Homo sapiens: one gene and its partners. The protein of the gene in region 1 interacts with the protein of each later gene in a pairwise test. Each region holds a gene or a part of one and is shown in the gene's direction. Other genes may lie near its edges.

Evidence for each region. Proteins that work in one complex are often made in the same cells at the same time.
Region 2: the proteins of ATF7IP (region 1) and CEP250 interact in a two-hybrid assay, tested with the Homo sapiens proteins (one large-scale study listed by IntAct).
Region 3: the proteins of ATF7IP (region 1) and CSPG4 interact in a two-hybrid assay, tested with the Homo sapiens proteins (one large-scale study listed by IntAct).
Region 4: the proteins of ATF7IP (region 1) and FLT4 interact in a two-hybrid assay, tested with the Homo sapiens proteins (one large-scale study listed by IntAct).

The regions. Positions count from the first base shown.
Region 1 is NC_000012.12:14,498,182-14,501,681, forward strand, and holds part of ATF7IP (activating transcription factor 7-interacting protein 1), read left to right. Parts: 3' UTR 1-3,500. UniProt on the Homo sapiens protein: Recruiter that couples transcriptional factors to general transcription apparatus and thereby modulates transcription regulation and chromatin formation. Can both act as an activator or a repressor depending on the context.
Region 2 is NC_000020.11:35,499,732-35,504,952, forward strand, and holds part of CEP250 (centrosome-associated protein CEP250), read left to right. Parts: intron 1-317; coding exon 318-438; intron 439-2,113; coding exon 2,114-2,235; intron 2,236-2,658; coding exon 2,659-5,221. UniProt on the Homo sapiens protein: Plays an important role in centrosome cohesion during interphase. Recruits CCDC102B to the proximal ends of centrioles. Maintains centrosome cohesion by forming intercentriolar linkages.
Region 3 is NC_000015.10:75,687,994-75,693,214, reverse strand, and holds part of CSPG4 (chondroitin sulfate proteoglycan 4 precursor), read left to right. Parts: coding exon 1-145; intron 146-2,402; coding exon 2,403-5,221. UniProt on the Homo sapiens protein: Proteoglycan playing a role in cell proliferation and migration which stimulates endothelial cells motility during microvascular morphogenesis. May also inhibit neurite outgrowth and growth cone collapse during axon regeneration.
Region 4 is NC_000005.10:180,624,746-180,629,966, reverse strand, and holds part of FLT4 (vascular endothelial growth factor receptor 3 isoform 1 precursor), read left to right. Parts: coding exon 1-24; intron 25-131; coding exon 132-271; intron 272-539; coding exon 540-708; intron 709-967; coding exon 968-1,085; intron 1,086-3,701; coding exon 3,702-3,856; intron 3,857-3,935; coding exon 3,936-4,098; intron 4,099-5,221. UniProt on the Homo sapiens protein: Tyrosine-protein kinase that acts as a cell-surface receptor for VEGFC and VEGFD, and plays an essential role in adult lymphangiogenesis and in the development of the vascular network and the cardiovascular system during embryonic development.

The DNA.
Region 1 (3,500 bases):
GACAGATGTGTGTATACACTACATTTGTTTATAACCAGAAGCAAAATAAACTCAGCCCACAAAGCTAGAATCTTTTCCTGGACAGTTTAGGCTTTGGGGTTTGGAAATGTAAATGTGTACCTTGCTTTAGTTTTGAGGCTGGGGAATATGTGTGGGTGTTTATGTGTGTTTTTCCTTATGTAGGTGTTATTGCATTGGAGTCTCCCATTTTCATTCTCAAATTTACCTCTTAAAGTACGAAGTAAGTAGATCAAAGGATTTGAGATGTGTAACTGGCATGATTCTGCTTTTGAAGGATCTATAGTATCATTTTAGTTAAGTGGGTCAAACAGAATCAAAACAAAACCCAAAGAAATAAATAAAAAACAAAATGGCTAAATAGTTTAAAATAGGTTAATTCGAACACAGGAAAGGATCTATTTGTTGTTTCTTTTGTCTGGTCTCCTGAGTTGTTAATTAGGTGAAAAAAGATCTGCAATGGCCCCCTCCCTTTCCTAATCTGGCTTTTACATTTATTTTGTGCCTTAAAGATTAACTACAAAGATAAACATGGCCAAAAATAAATAAATAAATATGGCCATATGTCCGTTGTTGCTTAGTCTTCCCTTGCAGCCTTTTACCCTTGATTTCTCCTTCATCTCTACCAAATATAGCACAACTCCTCAAGTAATTTTTTTTTTTTAAGATGGAGTTTTGCTCTTGTTGCCCAGGCTAGAGTGCGGTGGCACAATCTTGGCTCACTGCAACCTCTGCCTCCTGGGTTCAAGCAATTCTTCTGTCTCAGCCCCAGAGTAGCTGGGATTACAGGCACCTGTCACCATGCCCGGCTAATTTTTGTATTTTTAGTAGAGATGGGGTTTCACCATGTTGGCCAGGCTGGTCTTGAACTCCTGACCTCAGGTGATCCACCCGCCTCGGCCTCCCAGAGTGCTGCGATTACAGTTGTGAGCCACTGTATCCAGCCTACTCAAGTGATTTTTAAACCAAGGTGTGTGTATGTACATGGATGTGTATGTACACACACACACAGGTGCATGCATAGTCTCATCTTAGCCGGGCATGGTGGCGACAATCACATTTAACTCCAAAAATTTGACGTGCTATTTTCTTCTAAAACTATAGATGCTTTTATTTTTGGTCACTATTTAACTTTGTGTAAAGTGGACCAAGAGAAAACCATATTGTGGAAGACAGTTTTTCACACATTTTAGTATCCGTGTTGCACACTGTGTTAGAGATTATGAAAACCATTCTAGTTCAGTTTATCACCCAAAGCTATCACCCAACACTAACTCCTTAGTATTCTTTCAAAGGAAGCAAATAGTAAGATTACAATATAGAATGAGCTAAAATATCAAGGGGAAAGCTTCATTTCCTCTTTATTCTCTTTATCGTCCTTCCCATTTTAACCTTTTAACTTTGTTTTGATGGTGCCAAGTTGAGTCTGATGTACCCATTGTTAGCTTTGGATAGAATTTAAAGTATATCCCAGAATTAGCTGGGCATGTTGGTGCATGCCTGTAATCCCAGCTACTCAGGAGGCAAGGCTGGAGAATCGCTTGAACCCGGGAGGCGGAGGTTGCAGTGAGCTGAGATTGCGCCATTGCACTCCATCCTGGGAGACAAGAGCGAAACTCTGCCTCAAAAAAAAAAGAATTTAAAGTATATCCTTTGAGGTCATTTTATGTAACAATTAGATATAACCTCCTGTGTATCTCTCTGTTCCTCTTCAAAGTTATTAAAATTCAGCTTAGGTCATGGATTTTTAATATGAGGGCCAGCTGTACTGGTGTCAGGTAGGTGTTTTGGGTGTAGATAATTTAGGACTGGAGGGCTGAGTTAAGTTTTAGGAGGAGAATGTGGTTGAGAATATTTTGAAAGGAATTTATGGAGTTTGTGAAATAACTTCGAAGTCCTCTTCCTTTACAATATTTGAATTCATATTTGTACCTTCTCAAAATAGTGATTCATTTTTCCTAGAATTACAGGAGGGAGCTCTTTTACTAATGTTGTTTTGTTTGCAACTTTGATGGCTTATAATAGGAAGTATTCTAGTTGTAAAGAAAACTCTTTAGAGACTTTTGACTGGTCAGTATACTGAGGTGTGAGATTTGATTCATGATGAAGAAAGCCTATAGATTGCCAAAAAATTAATTCTCCAAACCACCTTTCACTCTCAGAAAATGAGACCACAAAGGAGTATGCTATAAATCAAATTTGCCAACCAATTATGTAGATATTACTCATTCTAGGACTAATGATGATGGTAAAGAAGTTGCCAGTGTTATGGCAATGAAAATTTCAGAAAGGAGGAGTTGATGATCTTCTAGATGTATATGAACACCTGTCTATATCTGCATGTATATGTTTTGACCTGCAGTGGTTGCAATGTTGATATGTGTTCAAGATTATTCCTGTCTACAAAACTGAAGGCCCATGTTCAAATTGTTCTTTATTGGGTGTTTTTATGGTCACGTGGTAACAATTTTCTTACCTAACCTACAAAAGGTTCTCTTGATGAACATTTTTATTTATATTTACTAATCTTTTTTAAAAAAAGCTTTCATAGCATTATATAATCAGATGAAGAAAGCCCAGTAGAATAAAAAAAAAATTCATTAGCCTAGCCTATATTATGTTTTCTGTCAAAGGAAAACAAATTCTCAAATAGGAATTCTAAAAATATTTACTAAAGTAAAATAACTACTTAAAATGTTTTATTCCAGTTGGAAGGAAGGTACAGGGAGAAATCGCAATTATTTAGGGGAGAAGTATATTTATTATAAGATGGTGTCCTCAAATTAGCCTACCATGGCACGTAGGGGCAGCAGCTATATTAGATTTACTAGAGGTGCTAAGTTAGAACACTAGGCTTTTATTGAGGCAGGTTTTAATATTGATAGATGCTTTTTGTTTGGTTTGTTTCTTCTGGGAGAGAATGGAGGACTTAAGTAGAAGTAGCTACTGATAACAGACTTTCTAGTAGCAGTTTCCACTCCACGGTTACCTTTTTAGTTTCATAGTATCTTTTCACAAAGTATTACAAATAAGCTAGATTCTCCCAGTTTGGGAATGCAAGTTTGCTACATTTTTAGCCTGGCAATATTTGTGTAGGTATTGCCTTATTGGAAATTCTGGAAACCTGATACTGCAACCTGCAATGTAGGATGTTTGTATGGCATTTAAAGGTAATGGTGATGTTTATTATTCTATACTTTGCATTCTGTGAGAGTAATTTTCACTCTGTCTTAAGTGTGAGTAAGCCTCTTCTAAAAATCTTGTTCTTGCCAAGAAATTTATAAATCACATACGAAGACGTCTGTTGCTAACAGTTAACTTTATGAGGTAACTATATCCTTCTATTTCTCTGGACTCATTTTTAAAAAATATGCCGAATACTGCATACTGTTTAAGGTAGTATATAAGTTTATGAGAGAAGTGGAGAGCTTTCTTCCTTGAAAAGTCGGTATTTGTTGAGATACCATTTGCCTCACAGAGAG
Region 2 (5,221 bases), on another chromosome or scaffold:
TTGGGCTGAGCTTTGAAGTAGGAGTGTTGAGAGGGAAGTGGTGACCCCTGGGCTAACTTTGAGCAGGAGCTCTGTTTCAAAAGACATAGATAGGTCAGAAGGGGATGGATTCTCACACTCCATCCAAGTGGAGCAGAGCCTGTCATCACTTCAGGAAGCTAAATACACATGTGTTTAAAGGAAGTAACCCGGCAATCTGGGAGTAGGTCCACAATGGCGGCCCACCACAGAAGCTGAGAATGAGGAGAGAGCTTGAGCCCTGCATTGTTTTGTGGAAGATGAGGAACTCACGTTTAGCCATGCCCTTCCTTTCCCAGGATGTTCTGAGGGATCAGGTCCAGAAACTGGAAGAGCGTCTAACTGATACTGAGGCTGAGAAGAGCCAGGTCCACACAGAGTTGCAGGATCTGCAGAGACAGCTCTCCCAGAATCAGGAAGGTGAGAAGCTCAAGACAGGCAGGGAGATTGAGAGGGAGAAGGGATAGGTGGGGAGCCCAGAAGTGGCAGGCACAGGCCTAGCAGCCACTCTGTTTATTTTATTTTATTTTTGAGACGACATCTCACTCTGTCACTCAGGTTTGAGTACAATGTCACGACTTCGGCTCGCTGCAACCTATGTCTTCCGAGCAGCTAGGATTATAGGCATGCGCCACCACGCCTGGCTAATTTTTTTGGATTTTTAATAAAGACGGGGTTTCACCATGTTCACCAACCAGCGGAGCCACCGGGGTCTCTAGGAGCTCCTGCACAATTATAGGATTGGGGGCTAGAAGGGACCTCCAGTGTCATCTGGCTCAACCCTGTCTGGAATTGAGGGCCAAGGCTCTCTGTGATGAGGATGAGGACATATTGGGATGATTACCAGGCAGCGCTGGGGCTGGCAGCAGCAGGGAGTGCTTGAACTCCTGGCCTCAAGTGATCCGCCTGCCTCGACCTCCCAAAGTGCTAGGATTACAGGCGTGAGCCACTGCGCCCAGCTGCACTGCATTATTTACCCAGAAATGTGAGGTGAGATCTAGATGCACTTCCAAAGGGGTGCTGACCACCTTGAACTATTTTTTCAGCTTTGCTTGGCCTTTGAGGCCCATCCTGGAAGAAGAGATTAGGAGGAACAGATTTGATGAACTGAAAGAAGGAAATGGCTGGGCTTCCATTTTCTGTCTCTGTAGATTTAAAAATTAAAAAAATTGGAGACCCAGGGCCAGGACTGTAAGAACATTATAAAACTGCATCTTTTGTCATCCATGTTACTTATTTTTATCATCTTCAACTGTGTCCTCCAAGTTAGCCTTTGGTAGCTGAGGGATTATGAGCTTATTTGGGAGAAAGCAAAGAGAGGGGATCTGGGGAGGATATATCCATGTGCCAGCCAAGGACTAGAAAGTGTCATGACTCCTTACAAAGGACAGGAGAGGAAGGGTCTTGAAGCTCAAGTTTCTACTGTAAAAGAGAAGAGTTAGCCGGGTGTGGTGGTGGGCACCTGTAATCCCAACTACTCGGGAGGCTGAGGCAGGGGAATCGCTTGAACCCGGGAGGTGGAGGTTGCAGTGAGCCGAGATTGTGCCACTGCATTCCAGCCTGGGTGACAGAGCAAGACTCCATCTCAAAAAAAGAAAAAAAGAGAAGAGGACACCTTGGGTCTGGGCCTTTTTTGAGGCCGTTTGAGGGTTCCCTGAGAGCCACAAAAATAATGGGATTCCAACGCCTGTTGCAGAAATGGTGGGCAACCAGCAGAGCCACCCGGGTCTCTAGGAGCTCCTGCACAATTATAGGACTGGGGGCTAGAAGGAACCTCCAGTGTCATCTGGCTCAACCCTGTCTGGAATTGAGGGCCAAGGCTCTCTGTGATGAGGATGAGGACATATTGGGATGATTACCAGGCAGTGCTGGGGCTGGCAGCAGCAGGGAGTGCTGCCAGGCAAATAGAAGCAGCTGGCATCTGCCAGCTCTTGATGTCCTTGATATCTCTAGGACACTGGATATAATTTTCTCCTTCTTGGCCTTCCTTCCCTTTGAATCTGTTCCCCATCCTCCATCTGCCTCTATATCCCTCTATATCCCAAACATGGGTCTTACTCCACTACCTCTCCTCTCCTCTCCTCTCTTCTCAAAGAGAAATCTAAGTGGGAAGGAAAGCAGAACTCCCTAGAATCTGAGCTGATGGAACTACATGAAACTATGGCATCCTTACAGAGTCGCCTGCGGAGAGCAGAGCTACAGCGAATGGAAGCCCAGGTAAAGTGGTACTGGTTTCAGGGAGGGGTTTGCCTCAGGAGTAGTCCCTTGGGCCCACCTTGGCCTGTGGTCCTGTGTCCCACTTCCTTCAGCAAGTCTGTCAGTTCCTCTGGCTGTCTCCATGTCCCTGGGGGCCATTATTCAGGTTCCAATGAATCCTCCTTCAATTGCTTTTTCTGAATTGAGGTTGATATTTTTGCCCCTTGTCCTGAAGGACCAGCGTCTCCCCTGGGCATAGCAGAGTCCTGGAAGGTGGTAGGGATGCCCTTTTACAGTATCAGCTTAAGTGGAATATACCACCACTTTTTTTTGCCCAAGTCCTTATCACTGCTAGTGCCACAAAATAAGAAAGAGAAGGGTCGGTGTTGGGGTGACAGTAGCAGGGAAGTGTAGTCTAAAGTGGCTTTTCATCTTGTCTTCTAGGGTGAGCGAGAGTTACTTCAGGCAGCCAAGGAGAACCTGACAGCCCAGGTGGAACACCTGCAAGCAGCTGTCGTAGAAGCCAGGGCTCAGGCAAGTGCTGCTGGCATCCTGGAAGAAGACCTGAGAACGGCTCGCTCAGCACTGAAGCTGAAAAATGAGGAAGTAGAGAGTGAGCGTGAGAGAGCCCAGGCTCTGCAAGAGCAGGGCGAACTGAAGGTGGCCCAAGGGAAGGCTCTGCAAGAGAATTTGGCCCTCCTGACCCAGACCCTAGCTGAAAGAGAAGAGGAGGTGGAGACTCTGCGGGGACAAATCCAGGAACTGGAGAAGCAACGGGAAATGCAGAAGGCTGCTTTGGAATTGCTGTCTCTGGACCTGAAGAAGAGGAACCAAGAGGTAGATCTGCAGCAAGAACAGATTCAGGAGCTAGAGAAGTGTAGGTCTGTTTTAGAGCATCTGCCCATGGCCGTCCAGGAGCGAGAGCAGAAGCTGACTGTGCAGAGGGAGCAGATCAGAGAGCTCGAGAAGGATCGGGAGACTCAGAGGAACGTCTTGGAGCATCAGCTTCTAGAACTTGAGAAGAAAGACCAAATGATTGAGTCCCAGAGAGGACAGGTTCAGGACCTGAAAAAGCAGTTGGTTACTCTGGAATGCCTGGCCCTGGAACTGGAGGAAAACCATCACAAGATGGAGTGCCAGCAAAAACTGATCAAGGAGCTGGAGGGCCAGAGGGAAACCCAGAGAGTGGCTTTGACCCACCTTACGCTGGACCTAGAAGAAAGGAGCCAGGAGCTGCAGGCACAAAGCAGCCAGATCCATGACCTGGAGAGCCACAGCACCGTTCTGGCAAGAGAGCTGCAGGAGAGGGACCAGGAGGTGAAGTCTCAGCGAGAACAGATCGAGGAGCTGCAGAGGCAGAAAGAGCATCTGACTCAGGATCTCGAGAGGAGAGACCAGGAGCTGATGCTGCAGAAGGAGAGGATTCAGGTTCTCGAGGATCAGAGGACCCGGCAGACCAAGATCCTGGAGGAGGACCTGGAACAGATCAAGCTGTCCTTGAGAGAGCGAGGCCGGGAGCTGACCACTCAGAGGCAGCTGATGCAGGAACGGGCAGAGGAAGGGAAGGGCCCAAGTAAAGCACAGCGCGGGAGCCTAGAGCACATGAAGCTGATCCTGCGTGATAAGGAGAAGGAGGTGGAATGTCAGCAGGAGCATATCCATGAACTCCAGGAGCTCAAAGACCAGCTGGAGCAGCAGCTCCAGGGCCTGCACAGGAAGGTAGGTGAGACCAGCCTCCTCCTGTCCCAGCGAGAGCAGGAAATAGTGGTCCTGCAGCAGCAACTGCAGGAAGCCAGGGAACAAGGGGAGCTGAAGGAGCAGTCACTTCAGAGTCAACTGGATGAGGCCCAGAGAGCCCTAGCCCAGAGGGACCAGGAACTGGAGGCTCTGCAGCAAGAACAGCAGCAGGCCCAGGGACAGGAGGAGAGGGTGAAGGAAAAGGCAGACGCCCTCCAGGGAGCTCTGGAGCAAGCCCATATGACACTGAAGGAGCGTCATGGAGAGCTTCAGGACCACAAGGAACAGGCACGAAGGCTGGAGGAAGAGCTGGCAGTGGAGGGACGGCGGGTCCAGGCCCTGGAGGAGGTGCTGGGAGACCTAAGGGCTGAGTCTCGGGAACAGGAGAAAGCTCTGTTGGCCCTCCAGCAGCAGTGTGCTGAGCAGGCACAGGAGCATGAGGTGGAGACCAGGGCCCTGCAGGACAGCTGGCTGCAGGCCCAGGCAGTGCTCAAGGAACGGGACCAGGAGCTGGAAGCTCTGCGGGCAGAAAGTCAGTCCTCCCGGCATCAGGAGGAGGCTGCCCGGGCCCGGGCTGAGGCTCTGCAGGAGGCCCTTGGCAAGGCTCATGCTGCCCTGCAGGGGAAAGAGCAGCATCTCCTCGAGCAGGCAGAATTGAGCCGCAGTCTGGAGGCCAGCACTGCAACCCTGCAAGCCTCCCTGGATGCCTGCCAGGCACACAGTCGGCAGCTGGAGGAGGCTCTGAGGATACAAGAAGGTGAGATCCAGGACCAGGATCTCCGATACCAGGAGGATGTGCAGCAGCTGCAGCAGGCACTTGCCCAGAGGGATGAAGAGCTGAGACATCAGCAGGAACGGGAGCAGCTGCTGGAGAAGTCTCTGGCCCAGAGGGTCCAAGAGAATATGATCCAAGAGAAGCAGAATCTGGGGCAAGAGAGAGAAGAGGAGGAGATAAGGGGCCTTCATCAGAGTGTAAGGGAGCTACAGCTGACTCTAGCCCAAAAGGAACAGGAGATTCTGGAGCTGAGGGAGACCCAGCAAAGGAACAACCTGGAAGCCTTACCCCACAGCCACAAAACCTCCCCAATGGAGGAACAATCTCTAAAACTTGATTCTTTAGAGCCCAGGCTGCAGCGGGAGCTGGAGCGGCTACAGGCAGCCCTGAGACAGACAGAAGCCAGGGAGATTGAGTGGAGGGAGAAGGCCCAGGACTTGGCACTCTCCCTAGCGCAGACCAAGGCCAGTGTCAGCAGTCTGCAGGAGGTAGCCA
Region 3 (5,221 bases), on another chromosome or scaffold:
CCACCTGGAGGTGCCTGTGGCCACGGCTCTGACCGACATAGACCTGCAGCTGCAGTTCTCCACGTCCCAGCCCGAAGCCCTCCTTCTCCTGGCAGCAGGCCCAGCTGACCACCTCCTGCTGCAGCTCTACTCTGGACGCCTGCAGGTGAGTGACGTCCCCCTGAGATCTGGGCGGGATTCGGGGTGGGATTCCTTCTCTAGCTTTGAGTGAACCCCAGCTGGCTGTGTGACCTTGTGTAAGTCACTTTTATCTTGGGGTCTTAAGTTCTCCACTGTGGGATGGGCAGCAGCAGCCCAGAAATGGTAAATCCTTCATGAACTGGCTCTGCCCACTGGCTCCCTCCAACCATGTTTCCCGCCACAACCCCTCGCTGGCCCTTTGTGCTCTGACAGCCCTGAACTGCTTTCAGTTCCTGGCCATCTTACAGTCGCTTGCTGCCAGGCTCTTGATGCACACTCCTTCTGCCAGGTGTGCGCCTCTCCCGTTCCCTGCACATGCCTAACTCCAGCCTCTCCTTGAAGTCTCAGTGTGGGCATCCCCTCCTCCTGGGCTAGGCCCCCTCCTGAGCCCCCATGACCCCTGTGCATCCCGGTGGCACTGCACCAATTTCTCTGCAGCACCATGGTCTGTCCACGACAGTAACAGCACCAGTACTGCCTCAGCTTCCTCATTTTTCCATTTCATCCTTCAAGACACCACAAGCTTTGTTAGCAAGGAGTCTTGTGGCTTTTTTGAGTCTTCCCCTAAACCATGAAGAGTTTAAGAACCCAGGGTCTTATTCCGAATTTGTGCCAGGCTGGGTGCAGTGGCTCATGCCTATAATCCCACCACTTTGGGAGGCCAAGGTGAGAAGATCACTCGAGCCTAGGAGTTCAAGTCTGGCCTAAGCCACACAATGAGTCCCCATCTCTATTTTTAAAAGAAAAAAATAACCGGACGCGGTGGCTCATGCCTGTAATCCCAGCACTTTGGGAGGCTGAGGCGGGTGGATCACCTGAGGTCAGGAGTTCGAGACCAGCCTGGCCAACATGGTGAAACCGTGTCTCTAATAAAAATACAAAAAAATTAGCCGGGCATGGTGACACATGCCTGTAATCCCAGCTACTCAGGAGGCTGAGGCAAGAGAATCACTTGAACCCAGGAGAAGGAGGTTGCAGTGAGCCGAGACCGCACCATTGCACTTCAGCCTGGGCAACAAGAACCAAACTCCGTCTCAAAAAAAAACAAATTTGGGGCAGCCATCTCCTTCCACACCCCATGGGGAGAGGACTAGGGCTTGGTCAGTCTGCTGCTTTCACTGTTAAACACCAGCGTGGTGCAGGCTGGTGCTGATGGCTGTCCAGTTCTGTAGGTACAATGATGCCACACCCCTACAGAGATGCTCCATACCAGGACTCCAAAATTATAGTTCTTAGTGCCCTGGTTCTGCAGTTACCATACTCTGCCACCTCCCATTCTACCATCTGGGAGCACCGTACCAGAGCCATTTCTGCTGTCAATGTCATGGAGACAGAACTATGTCCTTCATCTCTCCCCAAGATCTCCTTCCACCCCAGGTCAGGGAGCTTTTTTTCAGAACACAGAGTATTTAAATTTTAATTTAAAAATTAGCCTATTCCTGAACAGTGAGCCTGGCTGCCTTCAATGACCCCAAGAAACTTTGCTCTGTTGAAGGGGACTGATCAAGGGATTCCCAGTTACCCATTATTCCAAAGTTGAAATCCAGATTCCAAGACAATATTTCTGGCACCTCTCACTCAAGGAAAGAGGGGAAGAATTTAAAAACACAGGTTGGATTTCTAGGAGAGCATCTTGCTGTATGTCAGTTCCTTGTGGGCGAGGACCACATCTGATTCATATCAGGGTCCCCAGAGCCCATCCAGCCCTGGCCCAGAGTTTCCTTTGGTGAGTGTTTGGAGGATGAATAAAGAGATGGCAGGACGGCAAGAGGAGTGGCACCAGAGGCTCTTGTCCTAGGTTTTCCACTCTGGGGCCCCAAGTGTGGGGAACTCACTATGCTTTTTTTTTGTTTGTTTTTTGAGACAGAGTTTCGCTCTTGCTGCCCAGGCTGGAGTGCAATGGCATGATCTCAGCTCACTGCAACCTCCACCTCCCGAGTTCAAGCAATTCTCCTGCCACAGCCTCCAAAGTAGCTGGGATTACAGGCATGCGCCACCATGCCCAGCTAATTTTGTGTTTTTAGTAGAGACAGGGTTTCTCCATGTTGGCCAGGCTGGTCTCAAACTCCTAACCTCAGGTGATCCGCCTGCCTTGGCCTCCCAAAGTGCTAGGATTACAGGCATGAGCCACCACTGCAATCACGCCCGGCTCTATGCTTTTATAAGGGAAATGATGGATCCAAAGTGCTGTCCACTATCTCCCACTCCCCATCTCTCTTCAGGTCAGACTTGTTCTGGGCCAGGAGGAGCTGAGGCTGCAGACTCCAGCAGAGACGCTGCTGAGTGACTCCATCCCCCACACTGTGGTGCTGACTGTCGTAGAGGGCTGGGCCACGTTGTCAGTCGATGGGTTTCTGAACGCCTCCTCAGCAGTCCCAGGAGCCCCCCTAGAGGTCCCCTATGGGCTCTTTGTTGGGGGCACTGGGACCCTTGGCCTGCCCTACCTGAGGGGAACCAGCCGACCCCTGAGGGGTTGCCTCCATGCAGCCACCCTCAATGGCCGCAGCCTCCTCCGGCCTCTGACCCCCGATGTGCATGAGGGCTGTGCTGAAGAGTTTTCTGCCAGTGATGATGTGGCCCTGGGCTTCTCTGGGCCCCACTCTCTGGCTGCCTTCCCTGCCTGGGGCACTCAGGACGAAGGAACCCTAGAGTTTACACTCACCACACAGAGCCGGCAGGCACCCTTGGCCTTCCAGGCAGGGGGCCGGCGTGGGGACTTCATCTATGTGGACATATTTGAGGGCCACCTGCGGGCCGTGGTGGAGAAGGGCCAGGGTACCGTATTGCTCCACAACAGTGTGCCTGTGGCCGATGGGCAGCCCCATGAGGTCAGTGTCCACATCAATGCTCACCGGCTGGAAATCTCCGTGGACCAGTACCCTACGCATACTTCGAACCGAGGAGTCCTCAGCTACCTGGAGCCACGGGGCAGTCTCCTTCTCGGGGGGCTGGATGCAGAGGCCTCTCGTCACCTCCAGGAACACCGCCTGGGCCTGACACCAGAGGCCACCAATGCCTCCCTGCTGGGCTGCATGGAAGACCTCAGTGTCAATGGCCAGAGGCGGGGGCTGCGGGAAGCTTTGCTGACGCGCAACATGGCAGCCGGCTGCAGGCTGGAGGAGGAGGAGTATGAGGACGATGCCTATGGACATTATGAAGCTTTCTCCACCCTGGCCCCTGAGGCTTGGCCAGCCATGGAGCTGCCTGAGCCATGCGTGCCTGAGCCAGGGCTGCCTCCTGTCTTTGCCAATTTCACCCAGCTGCTGACTATCAGCCCACTGGTGGTGGCCGAGGGGGGCACAGCCTGGCTTGAGTGGAGGCATGTGCAGCCCACGCTGGACCTGATGGAGGCTGAGCTGCGCAAATCCCAGGTGCTGTTCAGCGTGACCCGAGGGGCACGCCATGGCGAGCTCGAGCTGGACATCCCGGGAGCCCAGGCACGAAAAATGTTCACCCTCCTGGACGTGGTGAACCGCAAGGCCCGCTTCATCCACGATGGCTCTGAGGACACCTCCGACCAGCTGGTGCTGGAGGTGTCGGTGACGGCTCGGGTGCCCATGCCCTCATGCCTTCGGAGGGGCCAAACATACCTCCTGCCCATCCAGGTCAACCCTGTCAATGACCCACCCCACATCATCTTCCCACATGGCAGCCTCATGGTGATCCTGGAACACACGCAGAAGCCGCTGGGGCCTGAGGTTTTCCAGGCCTATGACCCGGACTCTGCCTGTGAGGGCCTCACCTTCCAGGTCCTTGGCACCTCCTCTGGCCTCCCCGTGGAGCGCCGAGACCAGCCTGGGGAGCCGGCGACCGAGTTCTCCTGCCGGGAGTTGGAGGCCGGCAGCCTAGTCTATGTCCACCGCGGTGGTCCTGCACAGGACTTGACGTTCCGGGTCAGCGATGGACTGCAGGCCAGCCCCCCGGCCACGCTGAAGGTGGTGGCCATCCGGCCGGCCATACAGATCCACCGCAGCACAGGGTTGCGACTGGCCCAAGGCTCTGCCATGCCCATCTTGCCCGCCAACCTGTCGGTGGAGACCAATGCCGTGGGGCAGGATGTGAGCGTGCTGTTCCGCGTCACTGGGGCCCTGCAGTTTGGGGAGCTGCAGAAGCAGGGGGCAGGTGGGGTGGAGGGTGCTGAGTGGTGGGCCACACAGGCGTTCCACCAGCGGGATGTGGAGCAGGGCCGCGTGAGGTACCTGAGCACTGACCCACAGCACCACGCTTACGACACCGTGGAGAACCTGGCCCTGGAGGTGCAGGTGGGCCAGGAGATCCTGAGCAATCTGTCCTTCCCAGTGACCATCCAGAGAGCCACTGTGTGGATGCTGCGGCTGGAGCCACTGCACACTCAGAACACCCAGCAGGAGACCCTCACCACAGCCCACCTGGAGGCCACCCTGGAGGAGGCAGGCCCAAGCCCCCCAACCTTCCATTATGAGGTGGTTCAGGCTCCCAGGAAAGGCAACCTTCAACTACAGGGCACAAGGCTGTCAGATGGCCAGGGCTTCACCCAGGATGACATACAGGCTGGCCGGGTGACCTATGGGGCCACAGCACGTGCCTCAGAGGCAGTCGAGGACACCTTCCGTTTCCGTGTCACAGCTCCACCATATTTCTCCCCACTCTATACCTTCCCCATCCACATTGGTGGTGACCCAGATGCGCCTGTCCTCACCAATGTCCTCCTCGTGGTGCCTGAGGGTGGTGAGGGTGTCCTCTCTGCTGACCACCTCTTTGTCAAGAGTCTCAACAGTGCCAGCTACCTCTATGAGGTCATGGAGCGGCCCCGCCATGGGAGGTTGGCTTGGCGTGGGACACAGGACAAGACCACTATGGTGACATCCTTCACCAATGAAGACCTGTTGCGTGGCCGGCTGGTCTACCAGCATGATGACTCCGAGACCACAGAAGATGATATCCCATTTGTTGCTACCCGCCAGGGCGAGAGCAGTGGTGACATGGCCTGGGAGGAGGTACGGGGTGTCTTCCGAGTGGCCATCCAGCCCGTGAATGACCACGCCCCTGTGCAGACCATCAG
Region 4 (5,221 bases), on another chromosome or scaffold:
ACCCCTTCCTGGTGCACATCACAGGTAACAGGGCTGTGCCCCGTTCCCAGTAACGGGGCTGTCACTGCCTCACTGGCCTCAGTGGGTGTCGTCCTGTGAGGGCGTGGGAGTCACTGTGTGCGTGTCAACAGGCAACGAGCTCTATGACATCCAGCTGTTGCCCAGGAAGTCGCTGGAGCTGCTGGTAGGGGAGAAGCTGGTCCTGAACTGCACCGTGTGGGCTGAGTTTAACTCAGGTGTCACCTTTGACTGGGACTACCCAGGGAAGCAGGTGAGGTCAGCAGCGCTGCCAGGCTGTCCTGTCCCCAGGAGTCCCTGTGACTGTACAGCACACACTGGGCCTCCGCGTGGAGGATGTGTGGGCCCAGGCCTGCCCCAGGGGCCCCGGTCTGAGTGGCAAGTGTTCCACCCAAAGAAAACTCAGGGCCTGGGTCCAGGGCTTCCGGAGCCACCGCTGGCTGGGCTGGGAGGTGTGCCTTCGGTGGGGTAGCTGTGCAGGAGCCCGCCTGCTGACGCGGGGCTTCCCTGGGTGCGGGCAGGCAGAGCGGGGTAAGTGGGTGCCCGAGCGACGCTCCCAGCAGACCCACACAGAACTCTCCAGCATCCTGACCATCCACAACGTCAGCCAGCACGACCTGGGCTCGTATGTGTGCAAGGCCAACAACGGCATCCAGCGATTTCGGGAGAGCACCGAGGTCATTGTGCATGGTATGGCCTGGGAAACCAGGGTCCTTGTGCCCTGTGGGCCTGGGCCCAGAGCTCACGGTGCCCTTGAGCACTCAGGAGTCCAGCCAGAGGGAAGGGAGGGCCACGAGCAGAGGAGCTGCCCAGCTCCTGCACCGGGCGGCATGGCCAGCCCCAGTCTGCGGATGTCCGGCTGCCGGGGCTGCAGGGGCCGTGGGGGGAGTCCCTGGTCAGTCCACGACGGGTCAGTCCTGGATTTACAGTGACTTCTCCTGTCCGGCAGAAAATCCCTTCATCAGCGTCGAGTGGCTCAAAGGACCCATCCTGGAGGCCACGGCAGGAGACGAGCTGGTGAAGCTGCCCGTGAAGCTGGCAGCGTACCCCCCGCCCGAGTTCCAGTGGTAACAGCCCTGGCTCCCCACCGACCCCGCCGATACCCTTCCAAGTCCAGGGGCAAAACAGACCATAGGGGAAGACGGGCAGCGTCCTCCCCGTCAGGACCTGCACACGGAGACCAGGCATGGCGGGGGCCTCTCTCAGGAGACCCCCCAAGGAACCCGCCCATAATGTGATATTTCAGATGGAAGGTCTGTCTGTTCCTGCCACACTGTGAAAGGTTTCAGTACCAGCCTTCTGTTACATGTGGGTGTGGTGGGCACAGCGAGGGGCTTTTCCTAACTGCCTCCTGACCGCTGGGCCCCTCTCTGCCCTGCAGAATCTCCAGGGCCTGCCCTGCAGCAATGGCTTAGCGTTCCCTATGCCTCCTTTTGCGAGGCTGCCTCTCCCAGGACCCTTCTGTCCAGAAATTTGGAGATGCCACAGGGAATTGACAGATTGCCTGGGCTGGGCCTGTGCTGCACGGCAGCGAGCGAGAGAGCTTCCAGGAGGCCGACAAGCTGCTGGAGTCCCCGCAGATCCCCGATCTGCAAGCGTGTGCTGCGGCCCAGAGAAGGGAGGCCTCAGGGGTGGCCCTGTCTCCGCTGGCTACTCCCTGCAGGCTCTGGGGGGGCATGGCACCCCTCACAAACACGTCCTCAGGCCGTCTGAGTCATCCACATGGCTCACCCACAGTCAGTCACACTTTGAGTCCCCATTGCATAGACGAGGAAGCAGAGGCTAGGAAAGGGTATTCCTAACTGATCGCCAATTCCCCAGGAGGGGTCTCTGCACTGAGCTAGCCCAAGAGCCTCCTTCTCTTCAGCCTGGGCACCTCCCTCCTGGCAGGGCAACTTTTCCTGGAGCTGGGCAAGCAGAGGCCCAGGGTTTCCTCAGCCAGGGCCCCTTGCACTGGCTGGGGGCTCGTCTCTCCTGGGATGGAAGGCCCAGGGTGTCCTGGCCCTGAGCCCAGTGTGACCCTCCCACTGAGGACACAGACTTCGGTGTCCATCCAAGGCACCTGGTCAGTGCCAAGGCCCTTGGGGCAGAGTCCTGAGGGCACTGGCAGATCCTGGAGCCTCACTCACGGGTACAGCTCCTGGAGACCCCTGGGCCCTGTCCCCTGCCCTCCAAGGCCACCATTACTGAGCCTGCTCTGGGCAGGTGGCAGCTCTGTTGCGTCCAGGGTCTACCCAGTCCTCAGGCAGCTGCCTCTCAGAACAGCTTTCCACTGGCTCACTCCTGCCACATCTGGCTCTCTTCCTATGGCAGCCACCCACCCTTCCTGTGGTGCCCACCCTTCCTATGGCACCAGCACATGACGATGGCGAGCACTGACTGGGTGGACGGTCTAGCAAACACACAGATGGGCTGGTCCTTGGCTTCCGAAGCACCCGCAGTGTGTCCAGCACGCTGCTGTCACTGTCCGGGTTAAACCTCACGACAGCTGCAAGGTGCATGTCATCTCCATTGAGGCAATGAAGGAGTCTCAGATCCAGCAAGTGGCAGACTCAGGACCAGAGCCATGCAGACAGCACCACCTCAGTTCCGCCCCTGCCCTGCCCTGCCTCACTCTGCGACCCCAGGCCAGGCACTCCCCCCGGGCCCCTGCTGTGATGTCCAAGTTGAGAATGGGCCCCTGCCTCCCCTTCTCTGTTGGTCTCTGCCCGAGGGCTGTGCCTCTCCCAGGACACAGTGGTGTATCTCTGGCCTGCCACACCCAGCACCAGGGGCAGGCACCTGTCCAAAGGAGGAGCATCTCCATACAGAGTCCAGGCCACAGAGACAGGTGCCTGCAGGGGCCCCAGCACACCCTCTGGGGCTGAGGCATCTGCTTCCTCACGTGTGCAGCAGACATGTAGGCATCTGGGCGCAACTCTGCAGGAGGCAGCACTGCCCTCGTGGGGCTCCCAGCCCAGGGGGACGATGGGCAAACAGACACAGCAAGGCAGGGGCAGGCCACAGCATAGGACAGTCAGGAAGGCTGCACGCCCCCACCCAAATGAAGGAGGCAGGGAACCCTGCAGATTCCTGGCTACAGAAATGAGTGTCCCAGCGAGGCAGGCAGTGAGAGCCAGGCCTGGGGGCGGGGTGTGGGCAGCAAGAAGCCCACATGTCTGCAGGGGCCACGCACATGTCAAGGAGCTAGACTGTGCTCGCAGGGACTGCACCTCCACTCCTTCAGGTGTCTAAGAAAGAGGACGGGGTCTCCAGGCCGTGCCCAGCTGGGTGGAGGAACCAGGTGTGTGGGACCCTCCTGGGCTGGGCTGGGCAAGCCTGGCTGAAGAAGGCTGTCTGCAGCCACAGGCAGGGAGAGAAGGCGGCTGCCCCAGCAGTGACATGGTCATCTCACTACTTGTGGAGAGTTCAGAGGCTTTGGGGCAAGGCAGGAGGTGCTACTGCAGACCTCAGTGACCAATGCCCGAGCCGGCCGCCTGACACGGTTGTCACACCTGGCAGATACGGCCTGGAGACCATCTCCAGGGACTTAGACCATCCCCTCGCAGACCAGTGTTCCCCGTCCTACCCTGCACTCCTGCCAGCCCCTCCCTCCTCCCAACTGTATTTGGGGTGGGGGTGCCAGCATGAGGTTGGGGCTGTGGTGGGATCTGTATGGGCCCTGACCTCCCTTCCCTGGCCAGGTACAAGGATGGAAAGGCACTGTCCGGGCGCCACAGTCCACATGCCCTGGTGCTCAAGGAGGTGACAGAGGCCAGCACAGGCACCTACACCCTCGCCCTGTGGAACTCCGCTGCTGGCCTGAGGCGCAACATCAGCCTGGAGCTGGTGGTGAATGGTAGGTCAGGGACGGGAGAGCGCACGGGTGGGCGGCCTGGCATTGGAGGCCAGCTGACCGGCCATCTGTGTGCCCACAGTGCCCCCCCAGATACATGAGAAGGAGGCCTCCTCCCCCAGCATCTACTCGCGTCACAGCCGCCAGGCCCTCACCTGCACGGCCTACGGGGTGCCCCTGCCTCTCAGCATCCAGTGGCACTGGCGGCCCTGGACACCCTGCAAGATGTTTGCCCAGCGTAGTCTGTGAGTACAGCTCCAGCCTCAGGTCCCCTGCACAGCCACAGCCCCCAGCCTCAGCCATGAGGAACCTCCTTTACAGCACCCCTCACTGCCCAGGTCTTCCCTGTACCCCTTCTCAGGGCCCTGCTCTGAACTTGAACCCTACCTTCAGCTATAGCCAATCCCTGGCCTCACCTCGCCTGAGTGAGGCTCAGAGCCTCCCTTGCACCCATCCTCCATCAGCTGGCCAAGCTGGACACAGGATGGGTCTGGCCCCTGCCCACCTCCCTCAAGAGCGAAGACCTCTGGACACGTAATTGCATCATCTGGAGGGAGAAGGAAGCACATGTCTCTGAGCACCCAGCAGGACACCTCCAGCGGGGTGGGGACCTGGGGGGGTGTCACCTGAGCCCCTGGGATGGTTGCACTGAGCCCCACGGCACACCATGTGTGCTCATGGGCCTCAGCTCATCTGTGCACCACTCACATCCCCTTAGAGACAGGGAAATAGGGTCAGAGAAGGGAGGCGGCTTTCCCAGGGGCACAGCTGTAAGCAACAGGACCCAGCCACCTGCTGAGCCGTGCTCCCCTCCACTGAGCGGGATGCCAGCAGGACATTTAGACAAGCAGGGGGTGAGAGGAGGACGCCCAGGTGGGCAGGGCTTGAAGGCACTAGGGAGCCAGTGAAGGGTGTTGAGAAGTGGAGACATGGCTCAGGTTTGCCTTTTAGCAAGAGATTCCTAGTATCAAACTGGGGCGGGATGGGAGCTGGGAACCTACATGGGAGATGAGGGTAGCCCCACTGGCTGTGGCTCTGGTGTGGTCAGTGGGGGAGGCTCAGTAGGGGTGGCATGAGCCGGCCCCAGATGTCCAAGGTTCATAGGTATTCTTCTAGATCGTGCGGCATGCAGCTCACTGCCAGCACCTCCAAATGTCCTTCCTTCTGGGTGTGCCACCTGTATGCTCTGTGCCAAGTGATGGAGCCCTTCGGGGGGTCCCTGCTCGGCTCCTCCACAGGGGCAGATATGAGCCTCCCTTGGGGCCCTGAGACTACCCCCCCAATCCTGGCAGGAGGCCAAGCTTGCTGGGGATGCACACCCTGCCCAGAGGGAGGCCGCAGCTCCTAAAGCAGGAGAGAGGGAGAGGC